2 separate regions of the Homo sapiens genome follow, and region 2 is linked to region 1. Evidence: fine-mapped expression QTL. A gene starts in region 1. The other region holds a variant in brackets. All regions are shown on one strand. Distances are from middle to middle.

What was found. PIP is the estimated chance that this variant, and not a neighbour inherited with it, causes the effect.
Region 2: its variant is fine-mapped to the expression of SMOC1 in aorta (GTEx, PIP above 0.99).

The regions. Positions count from the first base shown.
Region 1 is chr14:69,870,576-69,882,914 of GRCh38, reverse strand. It overlaps SMOC1 (SPARC related modular calcium binding 1), which reads right to left and starts at 3,499. Exons shown (of 12, transcript NM_001034852.3): 1 at 3,138-3,499. The coding sequence starts at 3,236. RefSeq lists a silencer at 3,312-3,401.
Region 2 is chr14:69,983,882-69,996,470 of GRCh38, reverse strand. SMOC1 (SPARC related modular calcium binding 1) reads right to left here. Exons shown (of 12, transcript NM_001034852.3): 6 at 3,998-4,054; 7 at 1,991-2,071. Among named protein-coding and RNA genes, the nearest start is that of SNORD169, 12 kb to the right of the region's middle. RefSeq lists an enhancer at 8,610-9,111. The variant A/C (reference allele first, on the strand shown) is at 6,489.

The DNA of each region.
Region 1 (12,339 bases):
AAAGTGGAACCTGTAATCACTCTCAAACACACATTATCTGCATTTATTTGTTCATTCCATCAGTACCAACAAAGTAAATCTTGACAGGTGTCTGGCCCCTTGCTGAGCTCTGGAGATAAATCCCTGGACAAGACAGAAACAGTTCCTGCCTTCACCCAGCTTTCCATCTTCAAGGGAGACACAGAATTTAACAAAGACAGGCAGTTGGCTTGACCATCGGCCAGACACCATCAGCCAGGGAGAGCCCCTCCCCCATCCCATCCTCCCCTGAAACATTTTCAGTAAATTGTGCAGGATTAAAGAAACGGCTGCCTCCTCAGTGATTAAAAGAATCCTGACCAACGTCCCAGCTAGCCAAGCAACCACTCACAGTTGAGAGACCCCAAAATCAGGTGCTTCCTACATAATAGCCTCCAATCTGATACTCGATAGCCGCTGGTTTCCAGAGTCAAACAAATGTCAAGAATTTTATGAAGGAAGGCAGGAAGCAAATAAGGGGGCGAGGACTGGGGTCTAGGCCTCGGGGGAGCTCAATTAGTGAGCCAGATAAAGTTAAACTGAAAGGGCATGCTCTTGGTTTCCTAGAAAGCCAGCTGGAAAAGATGCCAATCCTTAAGCCTCTGTCACTCAAAAGATTAACAGAAGAGACTTAGGAGCGCCCACAGGGAATAATGCAACAAGCCAGATGTTTCTGCTCCTCGGATGACGCCGCTCTCAACAACCAGAGCTACACTTTTGAGGCCCCCAATAAGCCATAGAAAAGAACTGGAGTCTTTGGGGATAGGTTGAAATTCAGTCATTTGCCTTAAGTGATACAGACACCAAAAAAATATTAACAATTTCTCTGCAGACTCCCCTGATGTATCCGGGTTCTGTATTTCTCATCGAGCCATCTCTTTCTTTAACAGAAACAGCATCACTCGGATGAACACTCACTATAGCTGCCTGGTGGTGGGGAGAGCACACAACTTTTCAATCCATATAAACTGGAAGCTCAGGCAAGTCGATTGGCCACCCTGAGTCTCACTTTGTCATCTGTAAAATGGCTTTTAAAAGACCCAACTTCTTGTTCTCGTTCGAGTAAGAGATCATGTAAAGTGCCCAGCCCAGATGTTCATAAGTGGTAGCTCTTATTGTTATCTATAAACACAACCAGGTAACCACATGCTCGAGACAGCACCTTCTCCTTGGTACTTTCTAAACACACCAAGATGTGTGTGCACATGTGTGTGTGTGTTTGTGCATGTATGTATTTGAGTGAGAGAGAGAAAGAGGGAAAAAAAGAAAGAAGGAGAGAGAGAGTGTGAAGCAGCTTGGACATACACCAGCCTATTTACAATTCCTGCTTACGTTCCATCACTTCTATCAAATTAATAAACTAGAGGAGCTGGAAGGAACCTAACCACGGTGCCTGATTTCCCCTCAAGTCCCTAGCTTTCCCCTAAAGGTTGCTTCCTCTGATTCCAGGAGGCCAGGAAGGAGAGCCATATGGCTTGAGACTCTAGACAAGCCCAGCAGCAAACAAACGAGCCCCCCACCATTTGTCTCAGGGCCTCTCTCCTTTCGACCCTCCTGTGGGCGGCCATCCAGATTTCAGTCGGGGTGCTCTGGTCTGCATCTCTGTCTTGACTGTTCCTAATTATTGGAGGGAACGCATGGCTCGCCTGACCTCAGAGTTTAAGAGCTCTGAGTCCTAATATCAAACCAAGCAGCTTCATTTAAAAGGCATCCTCATCTGCATCCATAAAAGTCACTCCTGGAGCCCTTACTTGCCCCAGCTTTGGGAATGCCTGCTGTCGAGGATTTATGACACGCCCTGGATCTAATCTGCCACACTTTAACTGCTGCTGTTGCACATCTGGTCATAAAAGCAAGGGCTGGCCCAACACGGGGACAAACACTTTTCTTTCCTAAATGGCTGCAAATCTGATCTCACAGTGATACCTGGGCTTGGATGTAATCAACCCAGCATCTGGGCAGTCATTAAGACTTGTCAAGCATTGCAAGACTTTTTCTCCACACGACAGCTATAAAGATGATTCTCATATAGTAAAAGCTATGAATAAACAACCTGCAATCTGAACAGGTGGTAAAGGGCCAGGCCCAAGGATGTTCAAGAAAGAAAGCACGAGTTGGTTGAGCCAACCTTGTTTTCACAAAGATCCTAGCTACTTTCACATGGACTCTCAGGCTGCCAGTTAAGAGTCAATTGCCCTGACATAAACTGATGCTTGGCCAGAGATTGCCTGGATTAAGTTTGGTCAAAAGAACCACTAGGTCGTTTAATAGTACATGTTTCAAGGCAGTGAAATTCTTTATTAGACCAATTGGTGGGGGGTGTTGCGGGGATAATCTAGACCAGAAATGAACACAATACTGTCGGTTCCAGGAGATTTTACAATGCCCTGGACAATCTGTCCTGTGCACAGAATTGGCAGGTTTCATGTCGTTCAGAAACTCCAATCAGACCAAGGTTCAACGAGTAATTCAACCTCCCAGCACTGAACCCAGGGGGAGAGACCCCTGAACATTGCGCAACTCTCCCCTCCCACCTCTTTACAGTACCCCACCTCTGACCCTCTTCCAGTGCCTGCCCGGCAGGAGGTGACATTAAAATTATCTGCTGTGGGTTTTACGAGCAGTGATCGCTTTTTAAAACAACAACACAAGGTCCTTGTGTGGCTCGCGGGTAACCTAAAACTCTCCAGGCAGAGCTGCACCCGCCCCCGTCCCAACCCCCGCCGCCTGCCAACAACTCCAGCGCGCTGGACCGGGCGCCAGCGTGAGACCACAGGGAAGCCCTGCATGAGCGGAGAGCGAGCTTCTCTCCGACGCAGGAGGCACCTCTGAGGGTCTTGAGCAAAATGCAGGAGAGAAGAGATTGGGAAAGAAAACCCACCAGTGACAGTTCGGGGACAGGGGAGGGATGGTGGGTCAAGAAAGGGAGAGTGGTGGTGGCTCCAATGGGAGAAAAAAAATATTTCAGCAACTTCACCAAGCCCGCAGGGGACCTGGTAGTAGACAGAGGACAACAGGTCTCTGACATCTCTCTTCCCCCTCCTCCTTCCCTCAGGGATGAGGGGGGAAGCAACCTCCCCTCCCTCCGCAGGTGGGCGCAAAGCTGGGGGCGCACTTACCCTGGGGCCTGTGGTGCGGTGGCCGCGAGCAGGGGACAGCTGCACCAACACCAGCAGCAAGTGGGGCGTGAGCAGGCGGGCGCAGCGCGCGGGCAGCATGGTGCCAGCCAGGCTGGGCAGCCGGCAGCGAGCGGGGTTCGCGGGCTCCGCGGGGCGCACAGCGCGCCTCCCTTCCTTCCTTCGCTCGGGGCCCTCGCGGCGGCGGGGAGCGGGCCGTGGTCCTGCGGCGGGGGCTCGCAGAGGCTGCGGTCAGGGGACACAGTCATGAACCGCGCAGGAGGGGAGCTGGAGCGCGAGCGTGTGCTCTGCGCGCGGCGCTAGCTCCGCTCGGCGGGGCCCAGGCGGCAGCAGGTTGGACGCCTGAGCCCGGGCCATGGGAATTCCCGTTATAAACCCCCGGGAGGGGCGGGGCGGAGCACGGCGGGCCTGATTGACGGGCCAAGAGGCCTGTTGAAGCCGACCCTCTGGCAGGTGAAAGCCAATGGGAGAGGGGCAAGAGGAGCCACTCGTGGTCAACCCCCCGCCGAGGAGCTCCGCGGGAGTAGGCCCCGGGAGAGAGTGGGATAAAGAGTAACTTTCTCCCGGCACTCCTGCCCGAGGAAGCCTGAGAGAGCCCCAGCAGCCGGCACCCACCAGAAGGCTCACCTGGCTAATAATAATGCCTTAAGCATGTATATTTCTTAGCTCAAGCTCGTGATTGTCCCAACATCCTGGTGAAGTAGGCAGGGAAAATACTCCTAGCCCCATTTATCAGATGAGAATGCTGTGACACGAAGGCGCCGAGAGATCTGCCTCCCTGCTGCATCTGGGAAGAGTAACTGGGAAGTCGCTGGATGACCCGCACAGGGTGGGCTGTGGCGTTGGAGTGGGGAATGGGAGCATCCACTTCTTTCAAAGACTCTCCCTGGGAGGTGACATCCTGAGTCTCACAGCGGCTGCCCCGGGAGAAGTCGCAAGGGACAAGGTGAAGCGTGTGCTGGGCATTGGCCGCTGGGGAGGGCCTCTTGGGTACGGTAACCCCCTACACACACACACACACACACACACACACACACACACACACACACACACACACACATCTCCCAGCCCTATGGTCCGTATGATCCAGGATTGGAACTCAGGCATCCTAGCTTCCCCCTCTGAACTGGAGGGCAAGGGGCAGCCTCTCTATAGCCCAGCAGCTCTGGAAGAGGCGGGCAGAGAGGCCCTGGTCCCCTGATGGGAGACAAGGAGGAAAAGTATAGATGAGGAGGCGGCAGTCTGAGGATGCAGAGATCCCAGAGATGGGGTAGAACAAGGAGAGGAGATCTCTCCCGGGTGCCCGACCCTCTTGGAGAGGACAGCTCAGCGGAGCTTCAGTCAGATGTTGGGGGGCTCTGCCCAGGGCCATCCCCGGAAGGCCATCTTGGGAATGGTCACAGCTGCATCACACCGGCTCCTCAACAGAGCAAGGTGCTCAGCTGCCTTCAGTGAGACTGACATCTCCAGGAAATCACAGGGAAGGGGGCGGGGGGGCGCAAAATGAAACCCAGAGCGATCTCCTTATGTGGAGAACAACCTTTAGTGCTTACTTCCATCAGTATGGGCTACTTCGCAGGGAGGGATTCTTTTCTATAATTTGATTGTAAGCATCAGTGCCACACTCCCCCTCCCTATCTGGTCTGAGAGGTCCTAAGATTAGCTCTGCTCCCTCAGGGCTTCTCTCCTGGATTCCATGAAACAGCTTCGCACCTGACTCCTGAATTCAGTTTTGCCCTCTCTCCACACTGGCCCCATCCAACCTCCACACGGCAGCCAGTGTGTCTATTCGCTATTTAGAAGCCAGTGATCCTTTTAAGCAGCAAACCGGAACTCACCATTCCCTGCTTAAACGACTTCCCCTCTCCCCATTGCCCTCTGACAAGAAAGCTCAGACTGGATGCTGGAACAATAACAAAGTACTTGTGGTTCTCCAAACAAAAATGAAGCGCACTTCTAAAAGAATGGTCTATCTTTTCCTCCACTGGGAATGAGTGCTTTGGTCAGACAGACTCTGGAGCTGTACAGCAGGGTTCAAATCCTGAGTCTGCCACCTAGTGGTATAAGCTTGAAGAAGTCACTTGACTCATCCAGGGTCCCGTTTTTCTCTCTGTAAAATGGGGATAAAAATAGTATCCCCTGCCATGAGATGTTGTCAAAAGTAAAGGAGATGGAGTCTTTAAAGCCCTTAAAATAATTAAGTGAAAAGTATCACAATATGGCATTTGAAGAGGACAGGACAAATGCCTCATCTCATTTTATCCTCAGAACAATCTTCTGAAATAGGTCAGACATTCCTACTTTACAGGTAGATAAGTGAATACTCCATGAGATTGTGACTTGCCTGGCCTCATTTGGCTGGCAAATGACAGAGCCGAGACGCCGAGACTCAAGGCAAGGTTTTTGGAGTCTAATTCTGCTTCCATCATGTGATGGCTGCAATCTCCAGTCTCAAATCCCATAGGGTTGGACGTTCCTCTGTGCTAATTGGGAATTTCTTCAGTGGCCTACAAGGTGAACTGAGACTGGTGAGCTCCACTGAGCTTCAGAGGAAAAGGATGTAAACATCAGGGGTCAGCCCTTCCTGGAAACAGCCCTTGTGACCTGGCATCCTGGAGTTTGCCCAGCTGGACTTGTGACACTTGTCCAGTACCGTGCCCTGTGCAGCACTGACATCAATATCCATGTGTCCACCTAAGTGTTCACCCTCCAGGGGCTCAACAGGATGGAACTGTTACCATCGGGCTCAGCAGTGTGACAGGCTTTTCCTGACTCTACCACCTGGCTACATTCACCTATCAAGCTGGTCAACTCCTTCCTGTTGCTGGAACTATTGAGAAATCTGCTGGAGTAAGTAAATATGCTTCAGATGGCCCTGAGTATCTGGCAGCACAAAGTGCCCAGGGAAAAAGCATTGCAATAGCCCTTTCCATCCCTAACATCAAATGCTGCTTTCCAGCCAGAAAGCTTATTTCCAAGTGTTCACTGGTCCAAAAATCTACATTATTCTGGATTTCAATCATGTAGTTTAGTTCAAACTATGAGCAACTGCTTTCCAGTTACTCTGCTCAGCAAGTATTTTCTTTCCCTCTGGTTGGCATATGAGGCCTGTTGTAACCATGGCCATCATTCAGATGATGCATTTTCTTCTCCCAACTCCTCCCAAGCCCAGAGAAGGTTAGGAATTCCAGAGAACCACTAGTCCCAAACAGTATCTCTCTGCCAGGCTTAATCTTCTGATCCAAGCAAAAAAAGTAAAATTGACAAGTTTCTTCTTTCCCTGGAGGCCAGACTCATGGTCCAAAAATAATCTGACTATCTTGGCATCTGGTTTGTCCAGTTTCAGTCATACTCCTTGTCTTGTGGGACTTCTATTTGCAATGGGATATTTCAGTAGATGAAAATTAATACTTTATATCACAGATTGAGGTCTGAAGGCCTCAAATATTTAGTACTAACTAGAAATGCCAGTTTCAAATATATCTGTGTTTCTGGCCAGGCGCGGTGGCTCACCCCTGTAATCCCAGCACTTTGACAGTCCGATGTGGGCAGATCACTTGAGGCCAGGAGTTTGAGACCAGACTGGCCAACATGGCAAAACCTCATCTCCACTAAAAATAGAAAAATTAGCCGGGTGCAGTGGTGTATGCCTGTAATCCCAGCTACTCGGGAGGCTGATGCAGGAGAATTGCTTGGGAGATGGAGGTTGCAGTGAGTCAAGATCATACCACTGCCCTCCAGCCTGGGCAACAGAGCGAGACTCCATCTAGAAAAAAAGAAATATATATATATATATCTGTGTTTCTATATAATCCAGAGGATTCTTTCCTCATCTCATCTTCAGAATAGAATCTTTTCATCCATTTTTAGTAAGCACTTTGATGCACCTCCTTCTACGCCTTGCACAATGTTCATTATTATGATGGATCTTTGGATGCACACCCAGCCCTCTGAGAGGTTACCATCTAATTTAAGACACAGACCAGAGAGATACCTGGGGACCACATTTAAGAGTAAAGCTGGCCAGGCACGGTGGTTCATGCCTGTAATCCCAGCACTTTGGGAGGCCGAGGAGGGCAGATCACAAGGTCAGGAGATGGAGACCATCCTGGCGAACACGGTGAAACCCCATCTCTACTAAAAATACAAAAAATTAGCCAGGTGTGGTGGCGGGCGCCTGTAGTCCCAGCTACTGGGGAGGCTGAGGCAGGAGAATGGCGTGAACCTGGGAGGCGGAGCTGGCAGTGAGCCGAGATTGCGCCACTGCACTCCAGCCTGGGCGACAGAGTGAGACTCCGTCTCAAAAAAAAAAGAGTAAAGCCTGCAGTGTGTTGTAGGAACTCAGAGTGAGATGACCCACTGTAGGCCTAATGGGCAGGAAGGTCTCATGATGGAGGTAGATCCTGAATGAGGCTCTGGAGCAGAGTGCTTCTATAACATAAATATATCCTGATTTATATTTGCTTCATTTGTTACAATAGCTACCAATGGAAAGAGGTACACTGTATCTAAGGTCCAAGACTTTTGTCAAAAACACTAGTGAGCTTAGAAGCTTGAGACATTAAGATTCCTAGGTTCTGCTTTTAGATTTATGACTAACTTGCTGTAACCTTAGCATTAGGCTAAGGTAAGTATTATTAGTCCCAGTGTGCAAATGAAGTTTACCCGCAGACATTTAACCTTACCAAAGTCACTCCTTTAGCTTTAAATACACATGACAAAAATAATTCGAGTGACAAACAATTTAGAAATTTAGCTCTCTCTTTGGTACACAACTCCATTGAAAGTTTCGGGCAGCTTCCTCCAAGCCAGGCTCCTTCTATTATTTCTCTGTCATAATAAGCAGCTCTACCTGGTGGTACAAGATGATTGCTTAAGCCCCAGCCATCATATCTATTTTCCAGCCAACAGGAAGGAAAAAGAGGAAAGAAGAGCATGCTCCTCTTTTTAAGGACACCTCCCAGAAGTCACGTTTCATTTTGTCTCATTGGCTAGAACTTGGTCATATGACCACATTCAGCAAAAAAGGGCTTTAAAAAATGTAATCCTAATTGGAGGTGACCACATGTGTACAGCTAAAAGTCAACGTTTATGTTACTAAGAAAGGATACAATTCTGGGACACAATTAGAAGTAGAGGCCATCCTCATGAGTCGTCCTTGAGTTGCCAAACAAAAGGAGGCCACAGCATTCAAGCTGTGGTTTACCTCTAGTTCTGCAGACCCAGCTCCCTGGTACTCGAAAATATTAATGGCTCTTATGGACTAAATATGTCTCCCTGAAATTCATATGTTGAAAGTCTACCAGCTCCATGTGATGGCCTTGGGAGATGAGTCCTTTGGGAGATAATTATGATTAGATGATGATGATATACAGTCAAAAAAAAAAGGATTAGGTGAGGTCATGAGGGTGAAACCCTCATGAATGAGATTAGTGCCCTTATAAGAGTCACAAGAGAGTTTGCTTTCCCTCTCTGCTCTCTGCCATGTGTAGATACAAAGAGAAGTTGGCCATCTGGCCTCACCAGAACCCAACCATGCCAGCACCCTGATCTTGGACTTCCAGCCTCCAGAACTGTGATAAATACATTTCTATTGTTTGTAAGCCACCCAGTCTATGTTAAGGCAGCCTGAGCTGACTAAGACACTGGCCTTACTGCCAGACACCCAGACTCTTCGTGGCCACAAAAATTTCCTTCTGGTATTTCCCTTAGGCACGTTCAAGTGGGAGGAACTGAGAACATACTGGAATGAAGCTCAAGCCATGTGGTGCCAGGCTGGCAAGAAATAAGCCCCTAAAGAGACCAGTGGTCAGTTATAGTCACTGGGAATAATGCACATCTTGTGAAAATATTTTTGGCAATTGTCTATATTCTTCTGTTTCTATTTATTTCCCCTCCCTCTTCCACCTATAAAGGGATCTTTCTCTTCACCGGGTTGTTTTTCTGTAACCTAGTTCAAAATTAATAATAATAGTTGTAGCAACTATGAGGGCTTAGCAAATGCCAAAAATGAAGACCTTAGTATACACTCTTGCATTTACTCTACAAGGTAGGAAGCATTATTTTCTCCATTTCACTAATGAAGACACTGAGACTATGGGAGGTTAAATAACTCACATAGCCAGAAACAAAGAGCAGAATAAGAATCAAACCCCAATCCACCTTGTTATGAGGGTGGAGGGTACTAAAAGCTAACCTTTTGCTAAGCACTTTCCCTACTTTATCTCATATCCTCAGACCCAACTTATGAGGTTGTTACTATTGGTCCCATTGGATAGATGAGGAACTGAGGCTTAACAACAAAGGTCAAATTTACCAAGGGCAGTTCTTAAATTTTGCATTCACATCCAAAAATTTGGCATCCTCTTAACCCACTTATGCCTAGTGTTCCATTGTTGGAATGCTGAGCATGTGAGGGTTATTTATATCCTACTTCTCAAGGTCATCGCCAAGGTCTGATTTTGCAGTTCAAAAAATTGCAATCTCCAGCATAAATGGGTTAAATCTCTCCCCCTAAGAGTCAGAAGCACATACTGTTTTTGTGCATGCTATTTTGTTCATTGCTGAAGGCTGACTTCAATATCCATGGGTATGAATTTTCCCCATTCACCTGCTTTAATAGTCTGTGTTGTTTATACAAGAGTCCAGTTGGAAAAGGGGCATTTCCCTTGTATTCAGGACCAGAACCACCATGTTTAGATGCTCCAGAGAAAGCATTACCGCAACGACTTCATTCAGCCTGTGGTTTAATACTCCATCATAAATCATCATCATGTGGTCCTAATCCATTGGCATAGAGGCAAACCAGTCAATCAAACAAATTTTGCTGCATTCCTACTGAGTGCCAAACACTGCACCAGGGTCTAGGTATGCAGTGTGAACAAAGACAAAAGGCAAATGACATCAAGGAACTTACAGTCTAGTGGGAAGACAGATATTAAGCAACTAATTATCAACAATTAATTCACTAATTACAAGTATCCACGGTACTGCAAGGAGGCACAGGTGTTTGGGGACTTTATTTTAAAAGGTATGTAACCCAGTCTGGAGAGTCAGTAATAATTTTCCTCAGGAAGTGATGTTTTGGGGGGCGTTTTTTGAAATAGGGATCTCACTCTGTTGCCCAGGCTGGACTGCAGTAGCACAATCACGGCTCACTGAAGCCTCAACTTCCTGGGCTCAAGCAATCTTCCCACCTCAGCCCACCAAGTAGTTTGGACCACAGGAGTACGCCACCACACTTGGCTAACTTTTTATTTTGTAGAGACAGAATCTCTAGAGACAGGATCTCCCTATGTTGCCCAGGCTGGTCTCGAACTGCTGGGCTCAAGCAATCCTCCCTCCTCGGCCTCCCAAAGTGCTGGGATTACAGGCACGAGCACTGTGCCCTGCCAAAGTGATGTTTAAGTCAAGACCTGAAGGCTGTCTGATTTAAGCTGGATAAAGCGTGAGGGGAAGGGCATACTAGGCATAGCAAACAGCATATGCAAAGGCATTGAGGTAGGAGAGAATATGAAACTACATTTGTGACTAACTAAATCACTCTTATCCCTTTAACACTTAGCAGCTCAGGAAAAATAGTTATAACTATTTACCATCTGAGTATTTTTTTTAAATTTTGATTACATAATTGTTCTGAAATAACTATCTTTGACTATAAAGATTAGTAACAAAGATAACACCAGTTCAAGGTTAAACAGACAGTTACTGGACAGATGTCCTCACAAAAATATGGCCTTTATACAAGGTCATGCTTTTTATGGTCTTTTATTATAGCTTTTATGATCAGACATACAAATATAAAAACCCACTCCTCATGGCCTTCCTCAGCTCTATTTGTCAGGGTTTTCTTAATATTAGCGATTCCATTTTGATTTTGACAACTTTCACAATACAAAGAGAGGGTGCTTTGAGGTTTCATAGTCTCTTTCTCTTCAAAATGACTTTCTTTATATAGCTGTTCTCTTTTCATTTTCATGGTTGCTCATAGGAAACTATATATAAAGAGAAGAATTAGGGCCTTGTAAAAGATTAAGAGGTAAATTGAATTCACCACTTTGAAAGGAGGTTCTGTCTATAGTCACAATATCCAAGAACAAGCTGAAAATCCATTTATTAAATAGGACCCAGGAGAAAATGGGAAGTAAAATTCCATCTTTCTTGGCATTTTTTTTTCTTTTAGATAAATCACATATGCCCCTGGTGATCTGTGTGAGTAGAAAGTTTCTTACTGAAAACAGTTTTAAAATTCATCTCACCATATGGGTATTTTAAAATCCTTTTACAAATAATTTATAGAAGCAGTAATAAAGGGATAGTATATTAGTTACCTATTACTATATAACAGATTACTCCCAAAACTTAGCAGCTTAAAACAGCAAAAATTTCTCATCTCATGGTATCTGTGGCAGGAATCTTGGAGTGGCTTAGTTTGGTGGTTCTGGCTTGGGGTCTGTCAGGAGATTGCAGTCAGGGCCAGCTTCATGGGCAGGCAAACGGTACAATCACAAAAGGCCCTATACTTGGCTTAATACTCTGCTGTTGCTGTCTTGATTTTTTTTAGTAATTTTTGAAAAAGGAGCCCCCATTTTCATTTTGCACTGGATCACAGTCTAAAATTATGTAGCCAGTCCTGGTTGCACTCAAGCTGTCAGCCAGGATTACAGTCATCTAGGGCTGGAGGATCCTCTTCCAAGCTCACTCACATGGTCATTAGCAGGCCTTGGTTCCGCACCAGCTGTTGGATGGCCACCTCCATTCCTCTCCACATGAGTCTCACAACAGGATAGCTCACTTCCTGCCCAGAGGGGGTGGTGAAAGAGAAAGCCCACCTGTCTTTTATAACCTAATCTCAAGAGTGATGCACCATCATGTCTTAGCCCGTTCTTGCTGCTGTGACAGAATACCTGAGATTGGGTCATGTATAATGAGCAGAAATTTATTGGTTTACAGCTCTAGAGGCTGTGAAGTCCAAGATCAATGGGCCAGCAACTAGTGGGAGACTTCTGGATATGTCATCCCATAGTGGAAGCAGGACGGGCAAGGTTAGAGGGAGACAAACTCACTCTTTCATAACTACACCAATCCCACCCATGAAGGGGGAATCCTAATGGCCTAATCACTTCTTAAAGGTCCCAACTTTTCATAGTGTTTCCATGGTGGTTAAATTTTAACGTGACTCTTG
Region 2 (12,589 bases), 110 kb before region 1:
AGCCCAAGAAGACAGGCATTCTATTCCCAAGGATAACTAGTTTTCTCCAGCCCAACCACTCCCTAGCTATGACTCAGGACAAGTTACTTCCTCTGTCTCAGCCTCTGACTCTTCATCTGCAAGATGGAGACAAGAACAATAGCTATCTCATAGGGTTATGGGGAAGCTCAAGTGAGATGACACAAATGTAAAGTTCCACAGGACCTGATAACAAAGTAGCTATTATGACAGTGCTATTCTAATTTTGATGATGATGATGATGATCTTTTCTCCTCCATCGTTCCCCAAAGCAATCAAATGCATGGGTAAGTGAAAAAGAAATTCAAGGAAACAATTGTTAAGGGCCAAGTGAGTGTTTCAGCCAAAAAAGTGCTGTATGTTATAATTCAGAGCTCACCTTCGTATCTTCCACTTGGTCACAGAATGAGAATTAACTCATGGGGGTCTTGCAGACCTTCCAGGGCCTCAGGGACTAGGAGACCAGTTGCAAATGTTACTTCCGGCACCAGGTACTACAGGCACCAAAACCACTTCTATTTGATTTATATTTGCCTAACAGGGAAAGGGGAATAGAGGGGGTCCTAAGAAGAAGCCTAATAGATGCCTTTGCTTAAGGTGACAATCATAAATTCTTTCTGATTGAAGAATTTTCAAAATAAGCACCATCATTACTATTCCCGTTATTCATACCAATAATAATGATAATAATAAATATATGTACTTACAATTTATCAGTTAGCCAGGCATCAGTTGAGTGCCATATAGACATTATCTTAGTTAACTTTTAACCATAGTCCTTTGAGGGAGAGATTGTGATTCCCATTTTGTGAATGAGAATTGAGGCTCAAAGGAATTATGTGACTTGACTGGGGTCACTAAGTGTTGGAGCTACAATGTGAACCCAGGTTTCACTAATTCCAAAGCCTGTGCTTTAACCACTGCACTATTCTGTCAAAGACTGACCCAAGGGGGTTCACAGTCTCCTTTCACTCCACCATCCCATATCTCCAACTTTTATCAGTGAACAGACACATGAAAAGGCAATGACCAGCCCAAGTCACAGAGGAACTCAACTGATGGCGTGTGAATTCACCTCCTGGTCTATATAATTCCTTGCATTCTAATGCCACATCGCCACCATTAGGACAGAGCTGGTGAACAGGTCAACTTAAAGGGGACCAATGACAGGACACTCATTAATTGATTGTCATGTAAAATTCTGCCTGCTGGTTCAAAGTCATATATCTTTTGTTCATAGTCTTGCCACCTATAAGGAAAAGAAGATAGGGCTAAATTCAACAACCAGGCATAAATTATGCAGAGTGGTATTTCGCATAATGAAGTCTTCGGTTGAAAAGATGATCCTCCTTGATAGAGATACAGATTTCGCTTGTGAACACATTTTCCTGTTGATGAACATTCAGTCTTTATTGATAGTAAATAGACTTTACTGACTCTGGTCTTTATTGTTATTAAATAGAGTCTACAAAAAAATCCTACAAATATGATCACCCCTCAAAAATTATCACTTTCTACAGAGGGTTCAGCCAGTGCTCAAACTTGACCACTCACAAGACCCCCTACCAAAAGATCAGACCAGAGAAGACATGACTGTAAGCACCTATTTAGAGCCTTCAAAACACACAGAATCGACTCCCTCCAGGCTTGAAGTCCAACTTCTTTATGTCCAGTCATTCTTTCAAATTCTTCTGCATGGCATATGGAAAGTTAACCAAAATATTATAATATACAGTCAAAGAAATTTGTTAAGAGGATCAACGACCTAAGAAAGATGATCTCTGAGATGATAATTGAAGAAAATTAAAGTTGGAAGGGATTAACTTATCCAATCTCTTTATTTTATAGCTATAGAAATTGACAACCAGACAGATTAAATGATTTTTCCAAACCCACACAATAAGTAGTCACAGAACCACGGGGCAAGGAAGGATGGACTGGGTACATATATAATCCAAGGAAGGTTATTTACCTGAATTTCTTATGTTGGTGTTGTTCAGTTTGGAGTCCTTGATCACCAAGTGTTTAATCCATAGAGTTGGGGCTGTGATTTCTAGGGGTGAGGAAAAGGAGAGAGAAAAAGTCTGGGCAAAGAGACTATGTGAGTGGAAGTGTAACCTCAGACTTCTTAATAGTCATTTTTCAAAGTCTGAGGCATTGAGGCTTCAGCTCTCTCCCACATCCACTCCTCCCAGTTCCCCTCCCTTCCTCACAACGGAAGCTTCTCTCCCCAACAGCTCATAAGAGCCGATCAGGGCATCCTGTGCTGGGAAGCAGAGTGGTCAGAATGCAGAGGCACTGAGCACTCCATCCAGGAATAAAAATATTATCCCAGGAGGTAAGGAACATGGGCCAAGCCAAGTCCCTCTCAGCTGCTTCCCTGGGAGAAGATTTAAAGGGGATAAATCAACAAACGAACGCCAAACAAACCACAGAGACCATTCTAGGGGAAACGGCTGAGCCGAGATTGCTCCAGGTGGGAAAGAAAGGAGTGCGTCTCATGTGTGCTTCAATCCCCTTTCTAATGGCTTCTCATGCGCAGAGGCTGAATTCCTCCATCAAGAGAGTGCCAGGGTGCCTCCAGCCTCTCCAGGATTTGGTCACCCAGTGGACAGATGGGAATCCTAAGTGACCTGAGCATACTGTGGAGTGACCTTCAATGAGGGTATTGGGGAGGTCTCCCAAGATGAGACAGTCTCCATCCCTCACCTGACCCCCCAGGGTCCCAGACTTGTCAATGATCCAGGACCTTTGTGGATCACAGAGACATCTACATCTAAACTTTTAGACATGAACATACAAAACTTCCCATAAGTGAGCTGATTGCAAAGGATATTGCACATTTCAATCCTCCTCAGAGCTAAGCTTGTGCTAGGGACATCCATAGCCACAGTGTTAACCCGTGGCATGATTTCTTTTTATTCTTCTGTCACTCTGCCCAGTCTCATGATCCAGGGCTGGATACGCTTAGCTAGGAGCTGCTCAAAGTTTGCTACATATTGCACTAAAATCCCAACCTTATTGTCATACTTTAGAGACTTCACTCTGCCAAACTTCCAGTTCCTCATCAAGGGAATATGGAGTACTCAGTACAGTAAACTTTAGAGTACAGGCCCTGAGCACCTCCAACTTGAACCTCCTGCACCCCGCACTCCTATCCTCTCTCTATGCCTCCAGAGACTTCCAGCCTCTCTTTTGCCACCAGCCACAATTTCTCTTGACCTAGAATTTCTCCTCTCCAAAATGTCCTGCCTCAACTCTCAACGTCCCTACAACCTACACAAACCAGTCCCACTGGCCAATCTCCTTCCTGCAACTTTCCTCACTGTATCCCATCCCTACCTCATTCCCCTCTTGTCCATGCCAGCACCCTGCCTGGAACACTCAGACTCCTCCCCACCACTTTCAAGATCCAGCTCAAGTCCTGGCTCTTCACAAAAGCTTTTCCCAGACCATGGTGATCTCTTTCTTCCATAAATGTCTATGACAATAAGAACGGAGACCCCGTAATTTAAAGCACTCTAAGAGTTGCAGCTGTCTTGAGAGCAAAGGTTTACATCTCCAAACCTCCTTTTCATCCCCCAGAGGGGCTCACACAGTGCCAGGCACAGAGTGGACACTTGCAAGTGCCAATTAATTTACTGAAGGGACACTGCCGGCCTGACTATCTTTCTCAGCTGTGATTCCTGGGTCTTGGCAGCTCCAAGGGTCTGTCCAGGCTGTGTTATTGTTGGACACCAGGAGACAGGCAGGAAGCCTGAGAGAACAGAGGGCCCTTCCAGAAGTGGAGAGTGTACCAATTCCTGGGAGGATCTGCATTTTTTAAAAAGGTTAAAACAACCCAGCTTACACTGGGAAAAATTGAAATTAAAAAAGAAAATAATAATAATAAAACTTAAACAAACATCCAACGTTAAGACTTTTCCCAAACCTGAAAATGAGTGGGAGAATGAACATCAGAAGTAATGCAAGATCTTACCATCTCCATCGAACACCGGCTGGGTCTCCATCGTGGGTGTCGGCTTAGACCCGTCATCTGAATTGAGGGTTAAAAAGAATCGAAAGGAGACTACCATTATTGAGGTAAATACTATCTACTCTCCAGCACTGTTGAATGGTTGGGGTTTGTACAAGGCCCGGCCAAGTCCCAGTGAAGAGAACAAAGAAAAAGAAACAAAAGAAGAAAAGGGCAAGAAGGAAAAGAGAACCATAGAGAGACAAAACAACAAAACAAATCCAGGTGTGTGTTCACCATCCCAAGGCATGGACGAAAGGAGTTAAAGCTTCGTGGCTTTGGGGGACCGTTTCTCACAAATCTGAGGATACCAGTATGACTCTGCTGGCCCTTGTTCCCGCAGGAAAACTGGGAGGCAGTATCTCCCCCTCAGCCCTGAGTTATGGCCAGGCATGTTAGCATAAGGTTGGCAATCCTTATGGCATCAAATTATGGTGTCCCCAGCTCCTTTCCTGCCCTAAAGCTACCAGCTCAGTGGCCCTGATTAAAGAGCTCAAGGAAAACAAGAGACCTGTGTGCCATTCCCTTCCAATCTCCTCACTGTTTCTCCACTTTCACCTAAAACAGATAAGAAGGCAGGAAGAACCATTCTCTCTCCAGCACACGGAACTGAAGAGAATCAGGAATCATTAGAATGCTTCTAACTGTGAAATAGCAAACACCCCAATTCCCAATAAGAGGGAGGGCAAGCAAAATGGGAGAGGACATGGGACTTTGCAGAAATCACCCTAGACTTGCTTTGAAATTTCTAACATAGATGATTGGAGCAGGGAGCTCCCAGTAACAAAGTCCTAATGCTTATCATTCTAATAGTGTTGGCAGTCCTCTCTGCACAGCAAGAACCTCTGCAGGTCAGGAGTTAGTGCAGACTTTATTTACCTTCCAGGACTCTGAGTTCTTTCATCAGGGCCCCAAAAACCTTAGCTTATAGCAGTATTTCTCAACCTTTTTTCCATTATCACTCATCTAAGGAGCATTTTTAGGTAATTTTTTCCTAATCATCTCCCTAATAAAATTTTAATAATGCAAAGAAACAGTATATATATTTGTGCTTCATATGTAAAATGAGTGTTTTTCATCCCCTAAGAAATAATTTTACCCCCTTAGAGAAGGCTTGGAGAGGGTATCTTTGTCCCTCTTAAGGTTATATAGTTTAAGAGATTTCTCTCCACGGGGGGAGGGAAGGAGAGCACTGTTGTCTCAGGCGGTTTGATGATTACACCATCCCTCTCTTCTCAAGACCCCTTAGAGGTCTTTTAGGATGGAACACTATATTCTCTGAGCATTAACTATTTATGCAGATTGCAAGTTCTCAGATAGTCTCTGTGACGCCAGTCAGATCATCAATAATAACAACCCTCTACCATTTGGAGCTCTCAGTACCTTTGGCCGACTTTCGTGCATCTTATTGGGGGAGGGAGAGAGAATACAGAGTCCTGATCTCCTTTTTGCATCAACATCTCACCCTTGGGAGCTTAAGATTCAAGAGCTATGGAGACTCTAACCCTTGTTAGAGGCTGAGGCCAGCAGCTGAGCTGACAGTCGGGTGACACCTGACCCTGATATTATTCTCATGTACTGACACCAAGACCCAACTCTTGCAGAAGCCAAAGTGATCCTGAATTATCTGACAATCATCCCAAGAAATGAGATGTAGCAGGAAGAGAAGAGTATCTATGCTGGATATACTATTTGCCTCAAACTGGAGTCCAAAACAGGCATCTTTTGATGCCAAACTGTGTGAGTTTGATCTGGAAGTCTTTGAGGGAGAATAAACACAGAACAGAGCCACACAATGTCATTTTTTTAATAGCATCACTTCCCCTGACTCTATTAACACCTCTTTCCATTGAATTCAATGAGCCACTGAATTGAGTCTTTTGGCAGCTGCAATGCACATTTGGTTGTGCCTGCCAGATACAGAGTTCACAGTCTAAATAGTCCAGCACAGTGTGCTCAGCCCTTCCACACAGGGTGGCTTCATTTTAGGAGTCTTACAGGCTAACAAAGGGAAAGTGAAAAATCAAACATTCCAGGAGGGATGATAATGAGAACTCAAGTGCATATGGCTTATGTAATATTTTAATATTCAATGTAGGTATGAAAATCCTCCCATATTACAAGAACTGTATCTCTTCTCTGGAGCAAGACAACTGAAAACATTCTGTTTATTTCTCCCATCATCCAGATGAAAATCTTGGACTGCCCATCGGGCCCAGCCATCAGCAAAGAAGGTCTGCACTCAAGGAGGGCAAAAAGGTTTTTTGGGGAAGCTTTGCCCTTTTGCAGGTCAAGGACCTCCACAGATTTCCCAGATGTAGTCAGAGAAGCCCATGAGGCATAAAGCCACTTGCAGGGAAGGAATCTTCCTGCAGGGTAGGGTCACTGAGGGTGAAGAGATACAGCTGCTCTGCCACGGGGAGGTCCTAAATGGAAATCTTTATGAAGTGAGAAA[A/C]GACAAGATGCCCTGCTGCCAGGAATCACCTGTGACATCCAGCATGCTCAAAGGCTGGGAAGCCAAGCCAAAGCGAACAGCACCCTCTAACCATCATCTCCGGGCACCTGGGCTCCTGGCTTCTGACCCAGCAAATAAGAGCACCTCTTCTACCAAACACAAGTCCAAGGCCTAGGTCCAAGGTCTACATCAGTTCTGCTTCCAGGCAAGCCCTGGAGCAACACCAGGCCCCACACTGGGCACTGGGGAGAGAACAAGGTTTCTATATGTGCTCCTGCCTCCCAGTCTTAAGGGGAGTCACACTCCAAATCCCCCTTCACATGTAATAAGTTTACTCTGGATAAGTTGAGCCCCTCCTTTTACTTCTCTGGATAGCAATATCCTCTTCTAAAATTGAAGGATACCTGCCTACAAAATCTCGGGACACTTTTTTGTGTAGGTGTAAAACACTTTAAAGGCCCACTAAAGGGCATCTATAATTCCATGAGTGCAAACCATCTTATTCAACTGCTTACTTTTAAAATTGGGTTTACAAAATTAAAATCCTATCAAAGTTTTTAAATTGAAAATAAGGTAAACCTTACAACTCAATAACAAGCAACCTTATTTAAATATGGACAACATATTTTGACAGACATTTCACCAAAGAAGAGATACAGATGGCTAATAAATACATGAAAAGATATCCAACATTGTTAATCATTAGGAAGGTACAAATTAAAACCACAACAAGATACTTCTAAACAGCCACTAGAATGGCTAAAATAAAAAGATAGACAATATTAAGTGTTGGTAAGGATGTGGAGGAAATGGAACCCTTGTTCATTGCTGGTGAGAATGTACAACTGGGCATCCACTTTGGAAAGGAGTTTGACAGTCTCTTTAAAAAGCTAAACATCAACTTTTAACCCCAAAATTCCACTCCTAGAATCCATCTAGGAGAATAAAAACATGCCCACACAAAGACATGTATAGAAATATTCACTGCAGCATTATTCATTAAAGCTTCAAACTGAAAACAATCCAAATGTCTGTCCACTGGTGAATAAATTGTGATATATCCATATGATAGCATACTATTCAGCAATTAAAAGGAATGAATTACTAATACATGTGACAATGTAGATGAAGAATCTCAAAGACATTATGCTAAGTATAAAAATCCAGATGTAAATACCACATGTTGTATGATTCCATCTATATGAAATGTCTAGTAAGGCTACATCTATAGACACAGAAAACAGATCTGGGGGTGCCTAGAGCTACAGGTAGGAGTAGAAAATACCTGTGAATGGGTTCAAGGTTGCTTTTTGGGGTGATGGAGATGTTCTCTGGTGACAATTGTACAACACTATGAATTTATTAAATTCATTGGGTTGTATATTTACAATGAGTGAATTTTACGGTATGTAAACTATACTTCAATAAAGCTGTTAAAACAAAAAGGGAGGTGTGCCCAAGTCATCACAAATAAATCATGAGGCAGCAGCAGCTAGATTATTTGAGTGGTCCTTAATTTGGGGGAAGACTCTTCCACTGTTTTAAAGAAAAATGTATGTGAATCTGTATATGCATGTGATGATGTTTGGTGTATATTCTTCGTGATTCTTTTGGACCTCAGAGAGTATTTCTCTTTAATACTATAATAATCTTCCATATTAAAAGGAAGAGGATAAACACTGAAAAAAAAAAAGCCAATTCAAAGATTATCCTTTTTCTTACAGGGAGGGAGAAAAAAGGCAAATTTGGAAACATGAAAACAAACAACAAATAAGGCAAACTGAAAGAATTCTCAAGGAGGATGTCAAGAGCAACGGTAATAATAGTATTACCACACTTTGCAACACTCAGTTCCTGGCAGGTAGCTTTCCTCATCTATTCTCACCACCAGCCAGGGCGGAGGGAGAAACCAGGCAGATAAAAAGAGAATTGAATAACAATGCAAGTAAGTGATTTGATCAAGGTCCCAGAGGCAGCAAGCAGCTTTGGAAACTGCCTGGTCCCAGAGCCCTGGCATTTGGCCTCCGGAGATTCCCCAACCCCCAGTCACGCCTTGTCCTTGCAGGTGCAGCCCCAGAAAGTTGCAGCCCCCGCATGGGCTCTGTGAGCCTATACAGACAGTGGGTTTGTGTGACAGCACAATTCCTTGCCCTGCGAGAAGGCCTGGCCCACGCACAGACAGCTGGAAGTCACTTCGACCCCCGATGACACCGTTCAAAGCCTCCTCTGTTTGGCTTTTTGATTCCTGATTGACATTCGCTGGCGAGGAGAGATAAATGCCAGGCTGAGGACAATGTTGATCCGCTCAGACTATTCTCAGGGAAAGACTTTTCAGAATAACAAACAAAACAAAACAAAAACCCAAAAACATTGGTGTGCTTAAGGGACTGAATAGAGCCCAAGAGGTCCAGGGACGCAGGGCCAGGCCTTTCAAGGGGCTGGCAAGTCCATTGAGGAGTTAATTGTTTGGGTGTACAATGAGTTTATTCTGGCCACATACAAAGAGCTTTCTCTTCCAGGTCCTTCAAAAGCAAATGTCTCAAAGGAGCCAGAGGAGGAATCTGTATTAATGGCATCTCTTGGGGTCTCTGAGACTGAGAAGCCTTGGAGAATGAGGAAAAAAGAAACCACTTCCCCCATTCTGAGATGTGGAAGGTCTGTCAACAATCCCAAGTCCCCTTCAATTCTTGGGCTCTCCCCAAACCATGTCCATCACTGGTGACCCTCCCTCATATTCTTTCAGGCTGCCATTGTCCATCTTTGAAAAAGACATGGAGATAAACTTCAGCCTGGTAGAAGTGCTCGAAGGTTCTTGCTTTGAAGGGACCACATTTATGCCAGAGCCACCATCCCCCTCCACATGTGATTCTGAGGCTCAATGTGGAAGTGGAGACAACTCATTCTGGGCATCGTAAGGAGACAACAGTGTCTGTTTGCAAAAGTCCCTTAAGAGCCTGCCCTGAATCAGACCCAGAGGAGGATGGAATGCTAGGCCACCTCAACATTTCCTGAGATGCATGCGCCATGACCAGCGAGGCTCAGAAATGGATGGTGAACTGTCCTGATTCTGATCTGTAGGAGCAGAAGTGGTCGGGCATGTCAGGTTCTTTCCAAAGCAGGAGGTCAGTGTTTTATATTCCGTATACCTACCTGCATGTTCCCTCCCAAAAGAAGTGAAAACAAGCTGAAAGCTGCCTTTTTGCAGGCAGTTCTCACATCCTTGAGCTGAAGAAGAGCAAAAACAGAAGGCTGGGGAAAAGGCAAACTGGGGACAGAAGAGGAAGAGGAAGCACCGGCAGCAGAGGAGCCTGGTCAGGGCTGGGTTCACACAGAAGACTCGGCTAATGTTTTTTTAACTTTTTATTTTGAAATGATTATCGATTCACAGGAAGTTGCAAAGATAATACAGAGAGGTCCTGTGTACCCCTCACCCAGTTTCCCCCAATGGTAACGGCTTTATAGTTAGCATAATGATATGGGTAAGCTCTTTAATTATCTGGGTGGCATAATTAGTACAAAATCAAAATCGGGACACTGATATTCATATAATCCATGGACCTTATTCAGATTCTACCAGTTTTAAATGCACTCATTTGTGTGTATCGTTCTCTGCAATTTTATCCACGTGTAGACTCAGGTAACCACCACCACCATCAGCCTAGAACTATTCCATCAGCACAAAGATCTCCCTTGTGCCACTTTTACTGTCACACTTTCCCTCCTCCACCCCATTCCTCACACCTGGCAACCACTAATCTGTTCTCCATCTCTATAATGCTGTCATTTCTAGACTGTTATATAAATGGAATCATGCAATATACAACCTTTTGAAATGGGCTCTTTTCATGTTGCATAATGCCCTTGAGATCCACTCAAGTTGTGGTTGCATATATCAACAATTCATTCCTTTTTATTGCTGAGTATTTTTCCAGGGTATAGATGGATAGGGGATCCCACCTTACTCACAGCAGATACCTTCCAAGACCCCCAGTGGATGCCTTCAACCGCGGATAGAACCGAACCCTATACATCCTGTTTTTTCCCCATACATACCTATGATAAAGGTTTATTTATAAATTAGGCACGGTATAGATGAACAATAATAACTAATAATAAAATAGAATAATTATAACAATGTACTTTTATAAAAGTTATATGAATATTGTCTATCTCTCAGAATATCTGATTGTACTGTATTCATCCTTCTTCATTTTGCAATCTATCCACTTGATAACAGAGCTGGCCCCAAGTCACAGGGAGGGTACACAGCATGGGTATGCTGGACAAAGTCATGATTCACATCCCAGATGGGAGGGAGCAGGACAGTGTGAGATTGCATCACACTACTCAGAATGGCTCACAACTTAAAACTTACAAATTGTTTATTTCTGAAATTTTCCATTGAATATTTTCAGACCATGGTTGGCCGTGGGTAGGGCAGTACTACTGTGCCACAGTTTGTTTCATCCACTGAAGGACATTTGGGGTTTTTTTTCTACTTTCAGCTATTACAGATAAAGCTGCTTCTTGTTCGTGTACAGGTTTTTTGTGTGTGTGGCCATAAATTTTCATTTCTCTGGAATAAATGCTCAGGAGTGCAACTGCTGGATTATATGGTATATGTATGTTTAGTTGTTTTTCAGAAACTTCCAAAGTATTTTTCCAGTGTGTCTGTACCATGTTATTCTTGCCAGCGATGTATGAGAGGTCCAGTTTCTCGGCAGCCTCACTATCATTTGGTGTTGACACTACTTTTTCTTTTAGCTCTCCTAATAGATATGTAGTGACATCCTGCCATGGACTTATTTTGCATTTCCTGTGGCTAATGATGCTGAGCCTCTTCTTGTGTGCATATTTGCCCTCTGTTTGTCTGCCTTGGTGAAATTGGTGAAATGTCTATTTGTGCATTTGGCCAATTTCTTTCTTTTCTTTTTTTTTTTTCTTTTTTTGAGACAGGGTCTCACTCCATCACCAAGGCTGGAGTGATGATCTCGCTTGCTGCAACCTCCACCTCCTGGGTTCAAGTAATTCTTCTGCCTCAGCCTTCCGAGTAGCTGGGATTACAGGTGCACATCACCATGCCTGGCTAATTTTTTGTTTTTGTTTGTTTGTTTGTTTGTTTGTTTGAGATGGAGTCTCGCTCTGTCATCCAGGCTGGAGTGCAGTGGCGCGATCTCGGCTCACTGCAACCTCCACCTCCTGGGTTCAAGTGATTCTCCTGCCTCGCGGCCTCCTGAGTAGCTGGGATTACAGGCACGTGCCACCATGCCTGGCTAATTTTTGTATTTTTTTTTTTTTTTTTAGTAGAGATAGGGTTTCACCATGTTGGGTAGGCTGGTCTTGAACCCCTGGCCTCAAGTGGTTCATCCACCTTAGCCTCCCGAAGTGATGGGATTACAGGTGTGAGCCACCATGCCAGGCCACCATTTTCTAATTAAACTGTTTTTTAGCTGCTAAGCTTTAAGAGTTGTTTATATTCTCTAGATATGAGTCCTATGTTGGATAGACGGTTTGCAAATATTTTTTCTCAGGCTGTAGTTTTTTCTTAATTCTCTAACAGCACTTTTTGCAGAGCAAATTTTAAAGTTCAACTTATATATATTATCTTCTAGATTATGTTTTTGGTGGTGAAGATTTTCTCTTGTTTTCTTCTAAAAGTTTTAATAGCTTCACATTTTACATTTAAGTCTACGATCCATTTTGAATTCATTTTCATATCAGGTCTGAGGTTTAGGTTGAGGCTTTGGGGTCGATTTGTTAATTTTATTTGTTTGGTCTGTGGATGTCCAATTGCTAGAGCACCATTTGTTTGTGGATCTGTTTCTGGGTCCTCTATTCTGTTCCATTGATTCATGCATCTGTTACTCCACAAATACCACACTATCTCTAGAACTCTAGCTTTATTCATCTTAAAATCAGATAAAATGGTTCCTCCCACTTTAGTTTTCTTTTTCAAAATTGTTTCAGCTATTCTAGTTCCATTGCCTTTCCGAAGAAACTTGAGAATAATCAGCCCTTGAATCTCACATCTTTCTTTCTGCAAGCACAGGATCACTGCAATGGAACCTGAGAGTGACAGTTCCTCGGCCTTTACCACACGA